2 separate regions of the Homo sapiens genome follow, and region 2 is linked to region 1. Evidence: fine-mapped expression QTL. A gene starts in region 1. The other region holds a variant in brackets. All regions are shown on one strand. Distances are between the middles of the regions. Region 1 holds the start of SORBS2-AS1 (SORBS2 antisense RNA 1). Region 2 has its middle 5.4 kb from the start of SORBS2.

The links. PIP is the estimated chance that this variant, and not a neighbour inherited with it, causes the effect. A credible set is the group of variants that fine-mapping cannot tell apart.
Region 2: its variant is the best candidate, but not a certain one, in a credible set for the expression of SORBS2-AS1 in pancreas (GTEx, PIP 0.84).

What each region holds. Positions count from the first base shown.
Region 1 is chr4:185,585,285-185,590,671 of GRCh38, reverse strand. SORBS2-AS1 (SORBS2 antisense RNA 1) reads right to left here and starts at 2,747. Exons shown (of 4, transcript NR_186082.1): 1 at 2,482-2,747; 2 at 1,443-1,518. It overlaps SORBS2 (sorbin and SH3 domain containing 2), which reads left to right. Exons shown (of 27, transcript NM_001395207.1): 26 at 887-993; 27 at 2,984-5,149. The coding sequence ends at 3,045. RefSeq lists enhancers at 3,093-3,172, 2,451-3,650.
Region 2 is chr4:185,814,884-185,820,270 of GRCh38, reverse strand. It overlaps a transcript of SORBS2 not described here. Among named protein-coding and RNA genes, the nearest start is that of SORBS2, 5.4 kb to the right of the region's middle. The variant G/C (reference allele first, on the strand shown) is at 3,125.

The DNA of each region.
Region 1 (5,387 bases):
TTTCCACCACAGTATATGCTGTCAAAGAATTCAGGCCGGGAAAGGAAAGTGATAGCATTCTATCAATAATTCTTTTTTATATAAAATTATTTCAAGAGAGAGTTTTAAAATCAAATACAATTTTTCTGGGACTCATTTTAAAAAGAGACTTATGTCCATAGTCTGCTTGAAATGGAATCAGTAATAACTGCACATAGAATACATCTACTCAACTTCATAGGCTAATTACATCAAATCTTCCAATTCTACATCCTCAGAAAACACTGATCCAAACCATAACATTAAACTGATCTAAAGAATTCCTCTTAGTAAAAAAAATAATTTTCCTTTGTATAGTAATTCACACAGAGTGATTAAAAAGACATGTCTGACACATTTTGTCTATCTCCATTTAGAACCTTTGAAAATTCAATTCTCAAGCCCCCATTATTTGCTTCTGATTATGGCTAGCTAAAATTGTGATTCCTTCTTGTTTTTAAACAGTTAAATAATACAAATATCACTTATTTTATATTTTGTACTATTATTTAATGTCTAAATGATAGACGTTAGATGGCTGGACAACTGAAATGCGGGTCTGACTTATACATGTTGACATATTTTAATCCAATTTATGAATGTTACAATTTTCATGGATATTCCTCGTGAGTTTCAAAATGTTGTTAGAGTGTTCTAATGCCTGTGAAGATCTACATATTGCTATGTACCTGCTTACCAGGCTTGTACCATCCAATAGAATGCTATTTACATGCTTACCAGGCTTGTACCACCCAACAGAATGTTGTTAAGAATAGGAATGTTAAAGGAAGAATGAATATTGTTCTATCTTCTATATTTCATGAAGGTGTCAAGATGTTTTTAAACACATTCCCTTGTCCTGTTTAAGGTTTCAGGCTCTGTATAACTATACTCCCAGGAATGAAGATGAGCTGGAGCTCAGAGAAAGTGATGTCATTGATGTCATGGAAAAGTGTGATGACGGCTGGTTTGTGGGTATGTGCGCTTCTTCCTCAGGCACCTTCGGCTATTTTGTAATTTGCTTGAGTTTGCTCACTCCCGTGGTTTGCTGTGATGGCCGAGCTTCCTTTGAATTCGTAATGCCTTTGATCTTTCAGACATTCATATGCACAATGTAATCCCAAGGCTATTGCATTTTTAATATAGTTTAGTATTCACTGCTTCAGCTATGTGTGATTTTCTGCGAGCTTTATTTCCAACTCAACTGAGAGAAGACAATTTCTTTAAATAGCAAAAACCAGGAAAGATTGAGATCTAAGAACAACAACAACAAATGGTCCCCAGAAGAGAAATATCAACGCTCTGTGCTGTGGAAAATGTTAGTTGTCCACAGTGAGAATCTAATTTCAGAGGGAGTGAGATTAAGTGAACAGCTCTCCCGTTTCCTAGGTCTGACGTAGATGCCCGAACATTCAGTGACTCACCTTAACTTTAGTTTGTGGTGGAAGCAGAGAGACGTTCCATTCTTCCCACTTAAAAGGCAACTTCATCTTTACCATCCTAAAAAAAAAGACGAGAGGTCTTCTGGGAAAACATTTGTAGACAAAAGTATTTTACACTGGGCCACAGAAAGAGGTGAAAAGGAAACACAGGCTGCAGGGCAGAGAATGGAAGAGAGGAAAGGTGAGAGGAGAGGAGGGCTCACTCTAGACATCCATCGGTGGCAAAATCATGAAAGAATTGAGGCCCTGGTGCGGCCACAAGCCTCTGATTTTATTTCCATTAAAAGAAGAAAAAAAGGCCGGGTGCGGTGGCTCATGCCTGTAATTCTAGCACTTTGGGAGGCCGAGGCGGGTGGATTACCTGAGGCCAGGAGTTCGAGGCCAGCCTGGTCAACATGGTGAAACCCCGTATCTACCAAAAGTACAATAATCAGCTGGGCTTGGTGGCAGGTGCCTGTAATCCCAGCCACTCAGGAGGCTAAGGCAGGAGAATTGCTTGAACCCAAGAGGCAGAGGTTGCAGTGAGCCGAGATCATGCCACTGCACTCCAGCCTGGGCGACAAGAGCGAAACTCCATCTCAAAAACAAGGAGGAGGAGGAGGAGGGAGGAGGAGGAGGGAGGAGAAACGTAAAATGGCTTGCCTAGCCAAGGAAAAAGAAAAACAGCCATCAAACCAAGGCAGTAAGTGCCAGGATATAGGAGACAGATGAAGCTTGAGAGACCCTTATCCGGTCCATCTGCGCTGCCTAAAGAAGAATTTAGCAATTTAGTGCACCAACTTTTACAAGAAGTGTCCAAGGAATTACATTATTTGAAACCAGAGGCGAACATAATTATGATAGCCATTTGTGCGTGTGGTTAAACACACACCATGTTAAAAATCATGCCACTGATAGAACTCCCACACACAAATAGTGCTTAATCCTTTTTTTCATTAATGATTTGTAAATTGTTGAAAAATTGTATACTCGATGAAGGACTCTGGCAGTGCTGTTTTTAAATAAATGATGTGGCACTGACCATGATCTTCTGTAAGATGATAAAACTGTTGGAACAGCGACAGCCTGCCACAGATGATGTCTTCATGTCGCACCTGTGTTGCGCGGGTTGCTGGTCCCTGAGAAGCTTTGCTCTTAGGATTTTCCACTCACCCTGTCACCTGTCAGCCTCGCCTTGATCCCTCACCCCCGACTCTGGTGTGGCAGCCTCAGTGACTGAGCTCCTCCGCCCCCCTCCTCAGCAGGGCTGACTTTCCCTTTAGCTTGGGAGGCTCAGCATTTCTGTTTAGCCTGCCGCGATGGCAGCGCAGCATTTATGCCGGAGGGGCAGTGAGAGCGTCAGGCAACCAGCTAACACTGCTTATTTTGTCTGCCTATGGGCTTCATGTGAGTTGCCTGCCTTCTTTTCCAAACCCCTCGGGGCTTGCTGTCTTCCGAGGCCTTGTAAATGGGAAGTATTCAAGCCCATGTGTATGAACTGATATCGTTGTCACCCCCCTTTCATGACTCGCTTCTATTTTCAGGGACCTCAAGAAGAACCAAATTCTTTGGTACTTTCCCCGGAAACTACGTCAAGAGGCTGTGAATTGCGCTCCCTCCTTCTGTAGAGGCCGCCTGCCAGCCATGCACCTGCGTCAACGCGCCTGAAACACCCCGCGGGCCTCCCGTTGTCATGCCTTACGGTTTCCAATGCGCCGTCACCATCTCCACCTGCCACCAAACCACCAGCAGAGTAGCCGCCGCTGCTGTGAGCCTGGGGACGACATGGCAGGCTGGTCCCCCTCCGTGAAAGTGTGGATTCCTACTTCCTGCTCTAAGCTTTGACACGTCAAAATGTGGGATCAGAAAGAAAAAAATCATGATATTTAAAAATGGTCAAATATTTGAGGCAAAAAAAAAAAAAAAAAGTGTCTCCAGGAGGCTGTCCAGCCTCGTGGCTCCATTTCAACATCTCCCCCCAGGCGATGTTCTCCCCCAAGACGACCAGAAAATTGTTTATTGGGGAATGCTGTGGTTTGCATTTTCATATTCTTCGCTTGGCAGTGTGTATTCTTTTCACAAGTTTGCCTAGTGTCTTGGTTTACACAATATGACAACTGTAACTGTACTTTAGCTATTGTTTGCCTGCACATACATGTTGTAATATGCACAGTGATTACAACCTTTAAAGCAAGAGGAGGCGAGTTAATTTGGATGAGTGTGATTTTGCTGATTGAATGTGAGTTTTCAAATAGGAGTCTTTTTCTGCAATTTGTTTGCATTTTTTAGAAGTGCAAACAGTAAGTAAATAAAAGCCTTCGGTAATAATCATGACAATACAAGAGGCTGAGCTAGGCTACAGGGGAAAACTATTGTGTTGTAAAGTTGCATCGCTATTTTATATTAAAATGTAATGATCAGCATCATGAACAATGAGCTCTTAGTGTTTTATTTATCTGAAAAAATGTAAGTAAAAGCAGTGTTAGTGAGAGGTGCAAAGAATTATTCTAACAGACACCTGAAAGTATCTGTAAGCAATACTAGTAGGTAAGATTTCACTGTGTGTACACATACACATTTGAGATTGTATGAGAACATATAATCCATATGATATGTTGTACATTTTATGGAAATGTAATAGAATCTCACACATTATTTTATAGAAATAGAGTACAGAAGCATCACAAGTATTAAAGTTGGTTTTAGCAAGGATTAGGATTACTACAATTATTTTTACTATAATAATTATTTTTCTTCTATGGAACTCAGAATCCTGGCTACATTTGAGGACAGGAATATGTTGAGCCTGATTTTCCTGGTGTGTGTAAAATATTTCCTAGGAATAAATTAGGCACTTTTTAGAAGCAATGTTAAATCATTCAGGTTTTATTTTCTGCCCTGAAGCAGAAATTTAAAAAATGATATTGGGACCTGGAAGGTTTAATATGGTTCACAGTGCCTGAATTACACCTGCTCCGAAAACTAGCTTTGTATTTCTTATGACTTTGCATAAGAACTGTTCATCTTTGGATCTTGAGCACCTTACAGATAAAACTTTTTATGGCATCTCTTTCATGGACAGTGATATTGATCTTTTCACAATGTACGTAGCCTCTAGAATTTTGTACATATGTTTGCTCTTTTTTTGTACAGACTAGTTGTTGAGAAAACAGGGGCGTTTCCTAATTTGGTCTTTATCCTGCGACAACACTTTCAGCAGACTAGCCTCTCCTTATCTCACAGATCACAAGCACCCCTAGATAGTGTGATTCTGTCAGATAGCATTTATGCAAAAATCTATGAAGTTAAAAGATCGTAGAAGCCAAATGAAATGTACATATCTACTGACTGATGACAAGGGAATTTCATTAGGAAGAAGGTAAAGAAACATCGTTGAGTAGCCTACCTTGATTTCTGTCAAGTTCATAACCAGCTTCATATTTTAAAGGCTTCAGGTTTGAAATTAAGTCAACTGCATGCAGCTTTGCTGATAAATGAATAATTCTCTTTGATGCCATTTATGAGAAAAGACTTCAATATCTGTTGCCTGTCATATTTAAGAAAAATTACTGTTTCTACTCTCTGTATCTGATTTTAAAAGAAAAAACTATTCATACCTGGCTTCCAGGTAATTGACTTTGAATTCTTACAAGCAAAGGTCATTGTGTTTTTCTTGAATAGACATCTAATAAATTTTGCTTGGAAGTATACTTCAGTTTTTCTTCTTGACATTTATCTTTATAAAAATTGTGTATTTTATTCCAACTTGTTAAACTAAGAGAAAATGCATTTTGTTGTGTGTTCTTTTAACACAAACATGGAGAAAAGCTGTGTCAGCATCAGCTCAGAGAAGAAATATTTTTAAACCCACCACCAAAGCTCATTTGCTAAACGTTCTTTGGCTAAAAATTGCCCTTCAGTTAAAACAATACATTGTAAAATATTTCT
Region 2 (5,387 bases), 230 kb before region 1:
GGAGCCTGCGATAAGTTCCCACTGATGACACTAGTGCCTGTTTCTCCTTTGCTGAAGCCCACGGCCCTCACCGTCTGGACCATTCTTTTGATGAACACATGCATTTGTGTTGCTTTTTGACGCTCTGGTCCACGTCCAGCTGATGTTTCCCACGGTATTGGAAGGTCCCGGAGGTCCGTGCCCACCCAGTGCCGCACCATAAATCAAAGATACAAAATTCAAGATAATACCTAATACCCTTTTATGCTAATTAATGGATTTAATTGCCACAACCGCCCTCAGAATTAGATAATATTATCATCCTTTCTTATGAGGAAACAGAAGCACAAAGAGGTTAGGCAATTTGCATATCACACAGCTAACAAATTGCAGAATATTTGAATCCACACCATTTATTTATTTGTTCCACAGTGAATGAACAAGTATACTTTGAGATATTGATATGAAACCAGTATAAGGAGAGATGGCAATGCTTTGAGTCTGTGCTGAGGAGTTAAGCACAGTGGCTGGATAGGCAAGGACACCCCCAGGCAGGAATGAAGGAAGGGTGCTTCCGCAACCCACCGAGTCAGCCTGGGTGATCCCTGCACTGACAGGTGACCAGCCAGGAATAAAGGCTCACTGACAATGTCCAGAAATGAGATAGTACTTTCTTTGTACCCAGGCTGACATGAGCTGGCAGAGGCAGCTTGTTGTCTATCCACTCCCTATTATCAATTTGTTTCTCAGTAGTAGAACACTGGTTTACCTGGGACCAAAAGGCGTCCGGCTGAAAAGACCACGTTTTTGAGACTTACTTATCACTCAGGATGCAATGAGATATCAGCAGAAGTGCTGGGTGGGAGGTGGGGAAAAGCTCCTTCAAAGAGGCCAACTCAAGCGGAAAATGTGCCCCTTGGCTCTCCCTCTCCTCTTCTTGCCTGGAACATGGACCTGATGGCTGGAGCACAAGTAGCCATTCTGGACCACGAGGATTCTTGAGGATAGAAACCAGTTTCAAAAGATGACAGAACAGAGGGTAGGAGCTAGAGTCCTAATAATCATGAGGCCAATTTTCTACTAGCCTAGAACTCCTTATTTCTCAATCCTTCAAGTGAGAGAAAAATATAGCTCTGTCTCTTGTAAGCCCTGTTATTTGAGCTTTCTCTCCTATGCAGCCAATCCTGATCCTGTGATAAGACTTTCTCATGTGTTACCAAAAATTGAAACACAACTTGAGTTTGCTTCCAATTGTTGGAAGCAAACCATGTCTTTAATGAAGGAAAGATATAGGAAAGAGTCCACATGCCAAGAGAATAATGGGTCCTTCAAGATGCAGGTCAGGTATCAGCTCTCAGATAAATTTTTTAAAATCTACCTTTATGCCTATAGGAAAGTTGGTTGTGGAATGATTTGTCATGCTACTTTAAACCTCACAAGGAATGTTTCTTTTCTTTTTTTTTTTTGAGACAGAGTCTCGCTCTGTCACCCAGGCTGGAGTGCAGTGGCACGATCTCGGCTCACTGCAACCTCCGCCTCCTGGGTTCATGCCATTCTCCTGCCTCAGCCTCCCAAGTAGCTGGGACTACAGGCGCCCACCACCAGGCCCAGCTAATTTTTTGTATTTTTAGTAGAGATAGGGTTTCACCGTGTTAGCCAGGATGGTCTCGATCTCCTGACCTCTCACAAGGAATGTTTCAAATAGTCTTCCTTTGATGCAGGAAATGTCCAGAAGAATGTTCTCAGTTCAAGGCAATGATCTGGCAATTAGGATGCCAGAGTCTGACTTTTAAAAATATAGGCTGCTGGGCACGGTGGCTCATGCCTGTAATCCCAGCACTTTGGGAGGGCAAGGCAGGTGGATCACAAGGTCAGGAGATGGAGACCATCCTGGCTAACATGGTGAAACTCCGTTTCTACTAAAAATACAAAAAATTAGCCTGGTGTGGTGGCGGACACCTGTAATCCCAGCTACTCGGGAGGCTGAGGCAGGAGAATCGCTTGAACCCAGGAGGCGGAGATTGCAGTGAGCCAAGATTGTGCCATTGCACTCCAGCCTGGACGACAGAGCGAGACTCCATCTCAAAAACAAACAAACAAACAAACACATAGGCACTGAATTCTGACCTGGGTAGGCTTAGTAAAATAATTACCATTCTGGGTTATAGCTCCCATCCAATATTCTGCAAGCACGCATAGTTTATTTTTCCTACCTGCACGTGCTGTCACTGTCAGGCCTTTAACTGAACATCTACTATTTCCAGTGCGGATTGGGGATTTTTATTTTTCAACAGTATTTTCCACTTGTTGTTGGACCGTTGGATCCTAAAACGTGTACCTGATTGTATTAATACATCACTTGGGCCCATCTTATTATCTTGACCAATGAATCTTACTGAACATGTATTTCAGAAGCACTTCTAGAAGACACAAGGTGACCCTCTAATTTTCACTTCTTTTGAGATTTGCACATTTGGCAGCTGAGGGCTTTAGCATGATCTTCTTCAGAGTTTACGGAAGCTGCCCAGTTTCACCCAGCACCTTCTAATTTGTTTCAGTGGCTCAGGTGAAACCAGAAGCATTTGTTTTAAAATCCTTCTTGCCAGGTTTTGTTTGCTGAGCCTGGTGCGTTTCGTTACTAATTCAACAATGCCGTGACGGCAGAGCCCAGTGCTTTTTCTGCACTGGGTAGGGTGGCACGTTGCCCGGAAGTACCTGGGGGCCACTGCTGCCACAGGACACAATGCTAAGTGGGAAAGGTCATGGGAGCTACACTCTATTAATGTGGTCAGAGTGCCTCTCCAAGAACAAAGTGTGGCCCCTCACAGGAGCATGAAAGCAGCCAGCCCTCTCTTTCCAGGTCGCTTTTTAAGCTTATCATTATGAAGTATAAACAGTCAAATTCCTTGGGAGCAAGTGCAGCCTTTTCTGTATTGCTTGCAGAATCTCTCCCCACTGCAGGTTTAATAAAAGCCAGGAGTACTTTTCTCTAGCTACAGCAAGATGTATTTATATGTTTGGGACTGGTTAACAGGGCTGTGGGAGGGGGTTAATTGTGGGTGGTTTTTTTTTTCTTTTGTTATTATTGGATAACACCATTATTTTTTCCCCACCTGGTACTGACACATATTAACACACATTTTAC[G/C]ATAAAGTAGTTCCTGTAAGCTGCTGCAATCATAGTCATTTGCAAACCCAAAGCTTGATAAACCTGAAATATTTAAAACAATGTTGTTATTATTAGCCAGTAAAGACCGGGCTCTCCAGACTTAGGACTAGCTGAAACTTCTTCCTGTACCTCTTGCCACATTTTCCTTATTCCTCTTAACCTAGAGAGTATACAGAATTTCTAGGGGGTTCTAGGAACAACTAATGGGCTACACACAGTGTTTTTGTGTTAATAGGTTTGGCTTTCTCTCCAGTTTGTTGAACGGTTTTTTATTGCTGATGTTTACGTTCTTATCATTTGCTCTCTGGCAAGGTTTTGTTCTTCTATAATCATTTTCTCATTTTAAATTCATTTGATAAGTGAATTTCCAAAAACCCTCAACTCTGCTGGGTTTGTTTTGGTTTTGGGCACCTCTGATTTATAAAAGTCATTCTGGATACTGATCAGGGTCATACTTCTTCAGGGGATATGAACGCATTTGATTAGTAGCCTGTGGGTCAGTCTGCTTTCCAGCATATATTTCTTGGGGTTGGAATCATAGAAATAAATCCAATTTGTTTGACTGAGATACTTCAATCCTCCTCCTAAGTCAGTTGTCACATTTCCCATCAATGTCCTATTTTGACATTGTTCACGTCATTGTGAGAGTAACTAAATATGCAAGGTTTTGGAATAACCTTTGGGATATTCTATTTTATTTGTTTTAGGAATTAGAAAATTCAATCTAAGCTTTACAAAAGTCTTTGCTACCTCATAAACCATGCTTCAATTCCAGTCTCTAAGTTAAGTCATATGACGTGTTTCTTTGTTGTGCCAGGGACCAGATCCTTTGGTGGGTCCCAGCTGTGGAGTCTGCAGCAGAAGATGTGACTAGAGAAGAACCTATTGCTTCAAGCAGTGATGATTTTGTTGAATTAAGGAAACAGACTAATAAGGATTTCAAAATACGAACCAGAGGATAAATGGTTTAAGATCAGAATACAGGGAAGCAGTAAATGTAGGGAAATAGCAAACTTGTTTCAAGAAAGTGCAAAATGTTTCCAATACTCTCTACCAGAGTAGCCTCCTCAGAGTAACAGTAATGGTAGTAATCACTTTAGTTACTCCATAACTTATTAACTTCTTTAGTTTCAACTCTGATAAATAGTTATGTCTTCATCAACTAATCTTAACCTTAACTCTGTGTCTATTCTAAACACTATTTTTATTCTCATTTTATTTCATTTTTTAAAACTTTGTATCTTGAAAACAAATCAAACTTATAGAAAAGTGCAAAGAATAGTAAAATAAACTGAAAATATTCTCATTTAAGATTCATCAGGTGTTAGCATTTTGCACATTTGTGTTTGCCTTCCATAGATGATACACAGATGATAGATAGGTAGATTGATTGATGTGTAGGTGTGCATACGGTATAACTTAAAATAGAAGCTAGATAGATAGATAGCTCTCTCTCTCTCTCCATATATATGTGTGTGCGTATACTATTAGAGCATATATATGTGTGTGTATATGTATTCTTTGATGATAATATATTTGTTTGAAAATCCTTCTAAACAAATATTTGTCTTAGAAAATCATATTATGGTGTGGTATTCTACGCTTTCATACTGAACATAATTTCTGAATGGAGATTTTCACACACATTCTGTATTTTCATTTCATAATAAAAACCAAAACAACTAGCAGTGTGAATTATAGGGTTCCCTTTATATGTTAGTGGATATCTTAATAACCTTTAATAATATAACAAATTTAATTATAATGTTTAAATATATATAAAAAATACCTTTATGACCACGTTGTTTAAAATTCCACACTAAGACAACAATCTCAATAGAGAAAACAGGCAAAAGCTATGAACAGAAAATTTACAGAAGAGGGAACCCTGAAAACCATCAACAATGAAAAGATGTTCAATTTGTCAGTAATTAGAGAAACACACATTCAAACAATAATGGGCCATTACTCTGCACCTATTATATTAGCAAAATTTTAAAACTAGATAATGCCAAGTGTCCTTGTCATAGCTGATTGGACCAAGGCACAGGGCAGCCCATGTATAAAGCTGCTGGCCACATAGGTGGTATCTCACTTGACTCAGAAAGATGGGCTGGAAAAATCAGATTTGTCTCTTGGAAATCTGTATCTAGCACATTTTAAAACAAACACGTTTGGAAGGAGAATAAACGTCAGGGACCTGGGCTAGGGCAGGGCCTGAGGTCAGAGCAATGCCAATGGG